Regions from separate parts of the Homo sapiens genome. Here region 1 is linked to region 2. The links come from fine-mapping of genetic effects on plasma protein levels. A gene starts in region 2. The other region holds a variant in brackets. All regions are shown on one strand. Distances are between the middles of the regions. Region 1 overlaps SRPX (sushi repeat containing protein X-linked). Region 2 holds the start of SRPX (sushi repeat containing protein X-linked).

Evidence for each region. A credible set is the group of variants that fine-mapping cannot tell apart. PIP is the chance, under the fine-mapping model, that this variant and not a neighbour inherited with it causes the effect. Protein levels are from antibody-based Olink assays in UK Biobank. Linkage for the fine-mapping came from a reference panel and not from the study's own genotypes, which makes the PIPs less certain.
Region 1: its variant is the best candidate, but not a certain one, in a credible set for the plasma level of the SRPX protein (UK Biobank, PIP 0.53).

The regions. Positions count from the first base shown.
Region 1 is chrX:38,174,974-38,180,350 of GRCh38, reverse strand. SRPX (sushi repeat containing protein X-linked) reads left to right here. Exons shown (of 10, transcript NM_006307.5): 2 at 2,007-2,066. Among named protein-coding and RNA genes, the nearest start is that of SRPX, 43 kb to the left of the region's middle. The variant C/T (reference allele first, on the strand shown) is at 3,267.
Region 2 is chrX:38,218,182-38,223,558 of GRCh38, reverse strand. SRPX (sushi repeat containing protein X-linked) reads left to right here and starts at 2,688. Exons shown (of 10, transcript NM_006307.5): 1 at 2,688-2,863. The coding sequence starts at 2,767. LOC124905176 (a long non-coding RNA gene) reads right to left here and starts at 2,651. Exons shown (of 2, transcript XR_007068212.1): 1 at 1,760-2,651; 2 at 1-137.

The DNA of each region.
Region 1 (5,377 bases), 43 kb after region 2:
GTGCTGTCCAGAGAGTCTGTTTAGAAAGGAGGAAGAAAATCGGGAAACTGTTGTCATTTGGAAGCCACTGCAGAAGAGAGCTTCATGAAATGAATGGGTAGTCATTCATACTAAATGCTGTAAATACTGTAGACAAGTTAACCAGGATGACAACCGAGGGCAAAATATATGTATGTGTGTATATGTGTGTTGGAGGGCTGGGCGGGGGGAGAAAGCTTGCTGCTCATGTATCTGGATTTTTTTTTAATTTGGATGATTGAAGGTTCACATGCAGACATGCAGTTCAACTGTTTCCTTGGGTAGATTCCTAGAAGTGGAATGACTTGATCAAAGGGTTTGAGCATAGGCCTTTGATTCATGTTGTTAGGTAGGTTTCCTGGTTTTCATTGTTTTTTGTTTTGTTTTGTTTTTGAGATGGGTTCTCACTATGTTATCCAGGCTGTTTTTTGAACTCCTGGGCTCAAGTAATTCTCCCACTCAGCCTCCCTAGTTTCTGAGATTACAGGCATGAGCCACTGTGTCTGGTTCCAGTGCTCATTTTTTTATATGCAATGATGAATAGTTTGTAATTTTGTACACATCTGGGTGTGCAGAGACAAGGTGAGGAAATCTGCAGCAAAGGAAAATACAGAATTGGGCTTCTGTAGTTGCGGGTCTTTTCCTAATGAACACAGTCCAGCCCTCATCTCCTCTCCACTTTCAGTTTCCACACTCTACATCTCTCATCCAGAACACAAGTGGAACAGGGACCATTACTCATTAGCTGCATGGGGATTTGAATAACCTCACAGTGGAGGATGTTCTTGTCTGTTATGGTGGCAAGTAACTACAACTAAATGCGTGACCAAGACAGAGCTAACTCGAGTCATTAATTAGACTGTGAAGTCTGGAGGGAAGTTCTCTGAATTTAAGATTACAGTTTTGAAGTTTGGCATCTGCTACCACTTCAAGGATTAAGGATTTACTGCTCACTGGAATTCAATATTTAATATTTTAAAAACCATTCAGCTCCAGCTTGCAAATGAGTTAAATTAAAATAATACACAGACGTTCTCTCTGAGGCCGTGGTTTTTATTGGTAGCAACGCTCATTAAGAAATTTTACTGGCTGGGCACGGTGGCTCACGCCTGTAATCCCAGCACTTTGTGAGGCCGAGGCGGGCAGATCATCTGAGGTCGGGAGTTCGCGACCAGCCTGACCAACATGGAGAAATCCCGTCTCTACTAAAAATACAAAATTAGCCAGGCATGGTGGCACATGCCTGTAATTCCAGCTATTCAGGAGGCCGAGGCAGGAGAATCCCTTGAACCCAAGAGGCGGAGGTTGCGGTGAGCCAAAATCACACCATTGCACTCCAGCCTAGCAACAGAGTGAGACTCCGTCTCAAAAAAAAAAAAAAAAAAAGAAATTTTACTTGAGCCATACGTTCATGAGAGGTTCTAAATAAGCACACAGATAGTCTATTTCAGCCTTCATTTCCTACAAATGCTGTATATAGAAGCAACTTTGTGTTTCTTTTGTCAAGATAAGACATTTGATTTACCTCCTTATCTTGCATTTAAATTTATTTCACAAGATGGACCTGTTTTCAGGTACCATAAACACCCAGTTCTACTGGGTTTTCTTTGACTGCTGGGGAAACTGTGGACTGTGTCTGATGCACACATTTTATTGCATCTCCCCTGGCATGAGATTCATATACATTGGCATCTTCTCAGAGTGAAGTTGACTCTCTCTGTTTCCCTATTCCAGAATTTCACTTGGCATATGGTGATTCCAAAACAGTTTGAGGCTCATTTTGCTTGGTTTTTGGCAATCTCAGCTCAGCCGGTTTCACTCTGAGAGATCTCCTGTTTGTTCCTTCATGAATGGCCACAGAAGCTTTTGCTCTTGGCTCTGCATTCTAATAGCACCTCCTGCATGGTCTGTGGCAAAGGAATGCTTTGAAATATGCGTCCATACTATGTGGCTTTTCTTGCTGCAGTTTCTGTTCTTTTTTATTGTAGGATCGGGAGACTCACCACTAGAAGACGATGAAGTCGGGTATTCACACCCTAGATATAAAGGTGAATGCTTTGCTTATGTGCTAATGAGGACCTGCTGGTGCCAGGAGAACTTTCCTTTTTGCCTTGTGAAACAGATTGTAATAAAGTGACCAGACAACACATTTAAGTTCTAATTATCTATCAAGGAAAAAAAAATATATATATATACTCCCTTTTTTAAAAAAGGAAATAAAGCAAAATGCATTGGAAATCTCTGAAATGCTGTCTTTCAGCATCCCAATGGTCATTTTATTCTCATAAGTTTCTTTACTGTCCTCACTTCTGCAAAGGCAGCTGTAGCTGATGAAAGTGAAAATCAAGCCTAATTCATACATTACAGCCAGAATCATCCAGAGTAAACCACCTAAGGTCAAATCTGGACCAAGTGCTGATAATGTACTAAGATGAATGGGGAAGGAGAAAACTTGATTTTCATAAGCTCATTTCATCGTGCTCTTTCTGAGCCCAGCATGGCTTCTGAAACGGTATGTTAAAGTATGTTGCTCAAATGAAACTTAATGATAAAGAACTCCATCTCTACATATTCCCAGCAATCCACTCCCCAGCACGTATAAAAAGCCTAAACAAGAACCTTCTGTCCAGACTCAGGTAAGTATGTCCACAAATATTTCTACTGGTGAAACATTTCTCTGAAGCTTAGGGAAACCTGGGAGAAATGAAGGTAAATTTAGAGATGCTTTCTCTCTGAATCTAGTTCCTCTTACAGTGGAGGAAGAATTTGAAAAAAAAAAAAAAATGGTTAACAAAGTTTCACTGCGGCATTTTGCCCTGGAAATTTGTCCTAATTCCTGGGATGAGGACATGGCCCTTGTTTGTTGTGATGTGTCTCAGATACAGGAGAATCAGGGTAGGACTGGACAACTTTTGACTGGAGATGTCCTTCAGTTGTTTTCTACACAAGTGAACAATATTTCCAATATAATGACTGGTGCCTGGTGCTTATGTGCAGGTGTGCTTCCCATCACATACCACATTTTTTTGTGAGATCTGAATGCAAATACTCATTCCTACCTATAGTTTCTATCTCCATAGCCTCAGGAATTAACCAATCAAGCAAAGCACAAATACGTTAATCAGATGCTTGGGGTAAGGAAAGGTTCTAATTCGCAAAACTTCTTAACTATTTATGGGTTTAGATTTTTTTTTCTTTGAGTCCCTTGTTGAAAAATCTTCCTAAAACACATGCATGCACAGATGACC[C/T]TTCACATCTACAGCAGGGGTTGCCTAGTGCCCTCAGGTCCTTGTTCTTCACATCCATCTTCACCTCACAGCATTGCAAATGTGACAGGTAGACCAGATGGCCAAAATGTGTGCTTGCCCTAGAACTTACCCTGAATGTTTAAGAATAAATTTTCTTAGGGCATTGTTTCTATTGTCAGTTAAATTGCTTACTGGTAGCAATCATTTCAGTATGTATAAGTATATCAAAGCATCATGTTGTGCGCTTCATACAATAAAATTTAAGTTTTATTTATTTTTATTATTATTTTTTGAGATGGAGTCTCACCCTGTCACCCAGGCTGTAGTGCAGTGGCGTGATCTTGGCTCACTGTAACATCCGCCTCCCAGGTTCAAGCGATTCTCCTATCTTAGCCTCCCAGGTAGCTGGGACTACAGGCACACGCCACCACACCCAGCTAATGTTGCATTTTTAGTACAGACAGGGGTTTCACTATGTTGGCCAGGCTGGTCTCGAACTCCTAACCTCAGGTGATCCACCCACCTTGGCCTCCCAAAGTGCTGGGATTACAGGCGTGAGCCACTGCACCTGGCCAAGTTTTTTTAATTTTAAAAGCTAGAGACAAGCCATTATTAAGTGAGGGTTTAGTTTTAGATCCTGAGGCCCCTGCACAATGTCCAGCACAGAGTAAGTGTTTTTGAATTAAAGTAAAATAAGAAAGAAAATTAAATGTAACCAACATTTACGGTGCTCCTGGTATGTGGCAAGCATGGCTTTTGATTCTTTTGCTTGGAATACCATCATATATTCATATTAATTGAGTGAGTTTGTGATGTATGAGTATGCAGGTCATATATATACATACATTAGTTCCCCCTTATCTGCGGTTTCACTTTCCAAGGTTCCATTTACCTTCAGTCAACCGCAGCCCCAAAATATTAGATATTTTGAGAGAGAGACAGTACATTCACCTAACTTTCATTACAGTATATTGTTATAATTGTTCTATATTATTATTAGTTGTTGTTAATCTTTTATCATGCCTAATTTATAAATTAAACTTCATCATAGGTATGTTTGTGTAAGAAACAAACAGTATATATAGCGTTAGGTACTATCCAAGGCTTCAGGCATCCAATATCCCCCGTGGGCAAAGGGGGAGTACTGTATATCACAAATATATGTAGTACATACAGATTATATTAAAACCCTTAGAGGAAGGAAAATTTATTCAAGGAAGTTCTTTAGGCCTTGTGTGAGCTCCTACACGTTTATATCCACATGGTTAAATTTAATCAGCTCTAGGTTAAGCCTTTAGGACATCACCTTTACCTAGAAAGTCCAGGGAAGATTACTTGAGTCTTGAGTTTAGGGCTCACTTGCAGCTGTCTGCAAAACATGATATGACGAAAGTATTAGCCAGACCAGGGACGGTGGTGCGTGCCTGTAGTTCCAGCTACTTGGGAAGCTGAGACAGGAGGATCACTTGAGCCTAGGAGGCCGAGACTGCAGTGAGCAATGATCATGCCACTACACTCCAGCCTGGGTGACAGAGTGAGACCCTGTTTCTAAAAAAGAAAAAAAAAAGAGAAAGTATTAGCTGAAGGAAATGTGAAGGCAAAACTAAAACAGTGGTCTATGCATAAGACGTGGCCAGAACTGTTGGTTTTTGTAACTGAGAAGCAGTTGGAGGCATATCCTCAGAAGAGAATTCCTGGGAAAGTAAAACAGGGTCTGTCCTCCTTCCTGGCCACATGATGGCGGTCTTACCTCACTCACTGACAGCTCAGGTGCTGGGTTGGAGTGATGAGCCAGGCAGTTGCAGGGAAGTGGCTCCTATTCATGGCATTGAGAGCCCGGCAGGCTTTAGGGAACTCCTCACTGTTCCCCATCAATTGTGGGACAATGGGGCAGTGGCTGCTGTAGGAACTTATCCACCAAGGAGCTAGTGTTGCCCTTATATTTTATGGATCTCAAAGAGAACATTTCAAAAGCACAGCAGGGAGGTTCTGATTTATTCATTTCATCCCAGCTGTGCTTTGGGCAACTATGAGACCAAAATCAAAACACCTGCAACTTTGCCATCTGGGGAGGGTGTCACCCTGTTACGTAAATGGGGCATAACTGGGGA
Region 2 (5,377 bases):
CTACTCAGGAAGCTGAGGCAGGAGAATTGCTTGAGCACAGGTGTTTGAGGCTGCAATGAGCTATGATCATGCCACTGCACTCCAGCCAGGAAACAGCACTCCTTCTGGATAAACAAATTCAAATTCAGAATAAGACCCTGTCAAAGAAAAAAAAAAAAAAGAAAGAAAGAAAAGAAAAAGAAAAAGAAAAAATCAAGTCAGTATTTTTTTTTTTGAGATGGAGTCTAGCTCTGTTGCCCAGTCTGGAGTGCAGTGGCACAACCTCTGCCTCCCAGGTTCAAGTGATTCTCCTGCCTTGGCCTCCCGAGTAGCTGGGACTACAGGTGTGTGCCACCACTCCCGGCTAATTTTTGTATTTTTAGTAGAGATGGGGTTTCACTATATTGGCCAGGCTGGTCTCAAACTCTTGACCTCAAGTGATCCGCCTACCTTGGCCTCCCAAAGTGCTGGGATTACAATCATGAGCCACTGCACCAAGCGTCAAGTCAGTATTTTGCGTGACCATCACCTCATCCATTTCTGATTTCTTTCTTTGTGGTGAGGACATTCAAAGGCCAGAGAGCAAGTCAACAGTAAGTGTGGTGTTTCTTGTAATCCAGCCAGAATCAGTGGATAGAAGTGAGCTAGAAGTTCCTTCTCAGCCCAGTAATAGAATGTATACTGGTTGTGGTGAAGACACATTGCTTCAGAGGTGACATAGGAAAGGAAGGCTGCTGGCCAGGCTATCCTGGACCTGGAATTTGGGGTGCACATTAACCCTTGTTTACAGACCTAAAGAAGTAGTTCTCTATTGGGGGCATTTTTCCCCTGGGGGACATTTGGCAATGTCTGGAGACATTTTTTTGGCTGCCATAACTGGGGAAAGGGGGATTGCTAGTGGTATCTGTTGCATAGAGGCCATCGATGCATCTCTCAACGTGCAAGGCAGTCCCCCTCCCCAAGAAAGAATCATCTAGCCCCAAATATCAATAGTGCCCAAGTTGAGAAACTCCTGGTCTAGAATTTTTATCCTATACTAAAACTTATACCGTGGAGCTTAGCGGATTGGGGAGAGACAAAAATATGCATCTGGTCAAACTCCAGGTCACATTCCTAAAGATTCTGATTTTATTAGTGTGAGGTAGAGCCTGGATATGGTATTTTCATGAAGCTCCCCAGGTGACCCACATAAACAAGGTTGAGAATGACTCCCTGGAAAGTCTGGTCTGATGGAGGCCACAGAATAGACTGACCTCCCCCATTTCCTTGCGACTAGGGGGTTATTTAAGGGTTGTTGGTTCCCTGAAGAGGTAGCAGCAGTGGAGAAACCCACAGGAGATGGAGCGAAGTCCCCCCAAGTGCTAGAGAGGGTAAGATGGACGTTCAAGTCTGGGGCTTTTGTGAGAATTGGGAAATGGCACTCCTTCTGGATAAACAAATTCAGAACTTCTAGGTGAGTGCCCCCAGGGCTCTTAGCCTAGCTATCAGACCAGACTACTGTGGCAGAGAGAAAGATGCCCTTCTAGTGGATGTGGCCCCTGCCAAGACGCAAAGCTCCCTGAACCCAAAGGCATTTGGATTTTGGCTCCCACTTGCCCCTTCCTCTGGATGCCTTTGTACAGTGCCCAAACTGCACAACCTAATGCAGCAACTCCAACTAAAATTTGCCTTAGCTAAGATCTTTCTGAGACAGCAAAGGGGCAACGTATTGCCTTACTGATTTAACAAGAACTAAACAACCAAAACAACAAACAAACAAACAAAACTATGAGAGGCTTACTCAAATGCCTCAAAGAAACCAGATCCGTCCTGCGGGCAGCCTAGAAACCCTGTCCTGATGCCAGGATCCAGCGATGCCAAGCCACAGGGAAGAGGCTCCAGTCTGGTCGTGGTATCTTTGGGGTGGTTGAGAACAACCCAGGAAATGAGGAAATCTGGCTGCAGGAACCTACAGCTGGATCCCCATGGCTGTGGGTGAGACAGAGAACTTTCTGTGCCTTGTGCTCTCCCATCAGCTGATCCTGGAAGGAGAACCTCAAGCCCCATCCTAAACCGCAGCAGAGCAGGCACGCACCCGGTCCAGTCCTTGATTTATTCCTTTGCAAAAGAGAAACAAACTAACAAAAAATCTGTAGTATGGACTTTGACGTCGGCAGAACTACACACCTAAGTTCCAGTCCCTGCTCTGCCAGTAACGGGGGTGAATCTGGGCAAGTTTCTAAGCGTCGGTGTCTTATTGGAGAAAGTGGACATGGTAATAGCGAACTTGGGGCATGGTCGTGAGGATCAAAACAGAGAACATGGCCATAGTATCCGGCCGCAGTGGGCCACTCTGAATCCCCTCGGTTGCCCCTTCTGTTTCCGTGTGACTCACGCAGCTTTCTGCACAGATGGTATCCTTCTAGACGTCTGGGATGTTCGAGGCGGTTGTATTGAATACCGTGTGTGTATTCCGGGTGAGGGGGCGCGCAAATTGGGGCAAAGAAAGCTACTTCAGGATATTTCGCTCTGCTGGGGCTTGTCTCCAGCGCTCTCTGGCCAGAAAAAGCGCTGGCACAAAAGGAGGAGGTGGGTGGGTCAGAGCCCCGAACCGCGCAGTGTTCCAGGGGGGGCGGAGAAAGGAGGGCAGGCCCCAGGCAGGAAGGAGGGAGGGAAAGAGGCGAGAGGAGGAGTTTTCCAGCCCGGCCTTCGCCCGCCCGCTAGCACGCAGTCCCTTGGTCTCTTCGGTCTCCTGCCGCCCCCGGGAAGCGCGCTGCGCTGCCGAGGCGAGCTAAGCGCCCGCTCGCCATGGGGAGCCCCGCACATCGGCCCGCGCTGCTGCTGCTGCTGCCGCCTCTGCTGCTGCTGCTGCTGCTGCGCGTCCCGCCCAGCCGCAGCTTCCCAGGTAGGATCGGAGGCGTGGCTGCCTCCTCAGCTGGGCACCAAAGACCCCCGGAGTCGCCGTTGGGACCCTTCGCTCGGGATAGAGGGAGGTGCCGGGGGCGCCCTTTGTTTGCGCAGAACTCCTCTTTCGCAGCCCGAGGGTGGGGATGATGCGGATCGGGGCTGGTGTCTGGGCACGCGCCGGGAAGAACTGACCATCCCATCTCCAGGCGCGGGGCGCCCTCGCGGCGACGGGAGCCCTAGCACCTTCTGCGTCCGGGCTTCCAGAGTTCCAATCAAACCCTTTTCGGTGTAGGAGGCTCCACAGAGAAAGTTTGGCCGCAGACTAGTTTGCTACTTTCTCACCCCCAGAATTTTGCCTCTCACATGGTTGCCCACTGGAGGCTGGCAGCTTGTCCTGGAAGGAGCCTCTATGCCCTCCCACTACACGTCCCAGGCTACCCCCTTGGGGCCGCAGGACACGAGCCACGGTAAAGCGACTTTTGTGGAAGGCACGGGCGGGGCCTCCCCTGAATCTCTTAACCCCCCCTGCTGGGGATTCCGAGAAAGTCTGCGCCTCTGAGGAAGAATTGCCAGCTGAGAGTGGTGACATGTGGCATGCACTTGATTAGCCCCAGGGAAAGAGGGCTACTCGCGCAAGGATCTGCTGGGCAGAGGGTGCGGCTTATTCCTGGAGGGCGTGGTCTCCGGCATCTAAGGGGGCCCTGGTGTTTCTTGGGGGCTCTCATGGTGTGAGCAAAATTCTCTTTGGAGATGCACTTTAAAAAGCTCCAGCTAACTTCCTCACCCTGGAGTCTTAGGTTAGCGAAGAGCTTCAGGGGAGTAGGGCAATGTGCCATGCACTCCTGTTGCCTCGGAATGGAGAGGAAATCCATGGATGCGTTTTAATTTAGTGTTAATGGGAAAGTGGGTGACGTCGGCTATAGGGCGTGCAAATATTTGGCTCTGCGTTCAACACCGTGGGCAGCTTAAATCTAGGGTATGAGAAATGAACCTACTGAGTTCTGGTAGAAGGATAGAGGATGCCCATCTTTCTAGCAGTGTGCTTGGGAGATGTAGGGATGGCTGCGGGAAATTCTCTGCACGCACCTAAATAAATGAATGAATAGAACAAATTTGTAAATTAATAAACAGGAACATTTGTGTTTTGAGCTGACTCTTAAGTTTTAAGCTGCTTTGTAGGAACTGATTCAGGGTAAAGTGGAAAGGAAATTTTATCCTTACTGCCAGGCAACTGTTATTCCCATGGTGTGTTAATACCTCCTCTCCCACCCCCTTTAGCAGGAATCAGGTTAAAATGAACCTGTAGGGGAAGAGGAAGTCATTAAGCGTCCCAGAAGCAGCTTTCTGGGAGCGGGCAAATAAGGTGAGAAGCTAGAGGTAGCTTTTCCGCACTGAGTTGGGAGGTGCCTGTGAGCTGCCTGGGAACCTCAACTTTTAGTTGAGCCTTTCTCAAGCTGGGGACCCCTTCTCCTTTTCCATCCGACCTCCCTCCGTTCTCCTCCCCTGCCCTCCCCTCTCCTTTCTCTCATCTTCCACCTTTATATAGTACAGCTTGCTACCAGGGCCCAGCCACAGAATCATGAGTTCGCCAGTTTGGGCATTCACTACCACCTGTCTTTTGGGACCTATCCCTGGCTTTCCTGGCTCCCTCTGCCAGCCTGCAAGCTGCTCCCAACTTTTAGCCACCATGTTCCTGCTTGCCACCACCTCCACTGACTCCTAACCTGCCCTCCGGCTCTGCTCAGACCACAAATGAGCTGAAGCTGATTGGAGCTGCTTGATAAACACTCCTCTTGAGCCTCCTTTTGGCATGGCTCAATGGGGTCTCTTGGGAAGTGTGCTCCGCTGAGGTTGTGAGATCCAGAGGAGGGGATTTCAGTCCAAGCCAGAGGCTTTGGAAGGCTGGGGAGGGGAAAATCTCTAGGCCCTTGGGTCTGAAAGCAAATCACATAGGCTGAGTTCACTCTAAGTGCTGGGTGACAAATTTTAAAGATCATTTCAGAGACACTCTCTTAGCAAGTGGACATCATATCTTCAGTAAGAGAGAAAGTGAAGGACTTGAATCTGGAACTTCTGAAAGAAGATGGAGATCTAGGGCTCCATCAGCAAGTCGATTATGTAACTATCTGCACGTGAATAGCACATCTGTCAGAGTGAGAGTAAATCATTCTCATTCCCACTCCTAGAAGGTCTCTGGAGTTCTTCCATCTTAGAATTTAATGCAGCTTTTCTGGCTCTCTGATCTATTTTTTGCAGCCTAGCAAAGATGCAGTGTCTATAAAAACCTACATGAAGTGTATGGAAAATTTGTAGAAAAGTTGTTTGTGTTTGACTGTGTTTGTATGCTTATAACAGATGAGAATTTAGATTCTGTTCTTAAAATAATTCTTAGAGCTGTATTTGCATGTGAGATAGTGGTGGTTCACTCTGCCTCCTTCTGCAAACAAGGCTGAAGATGGAGAATGAGTACCATGGCCTCTAAGAAAGGCTTCGTGAATCTTACATCTGGAGA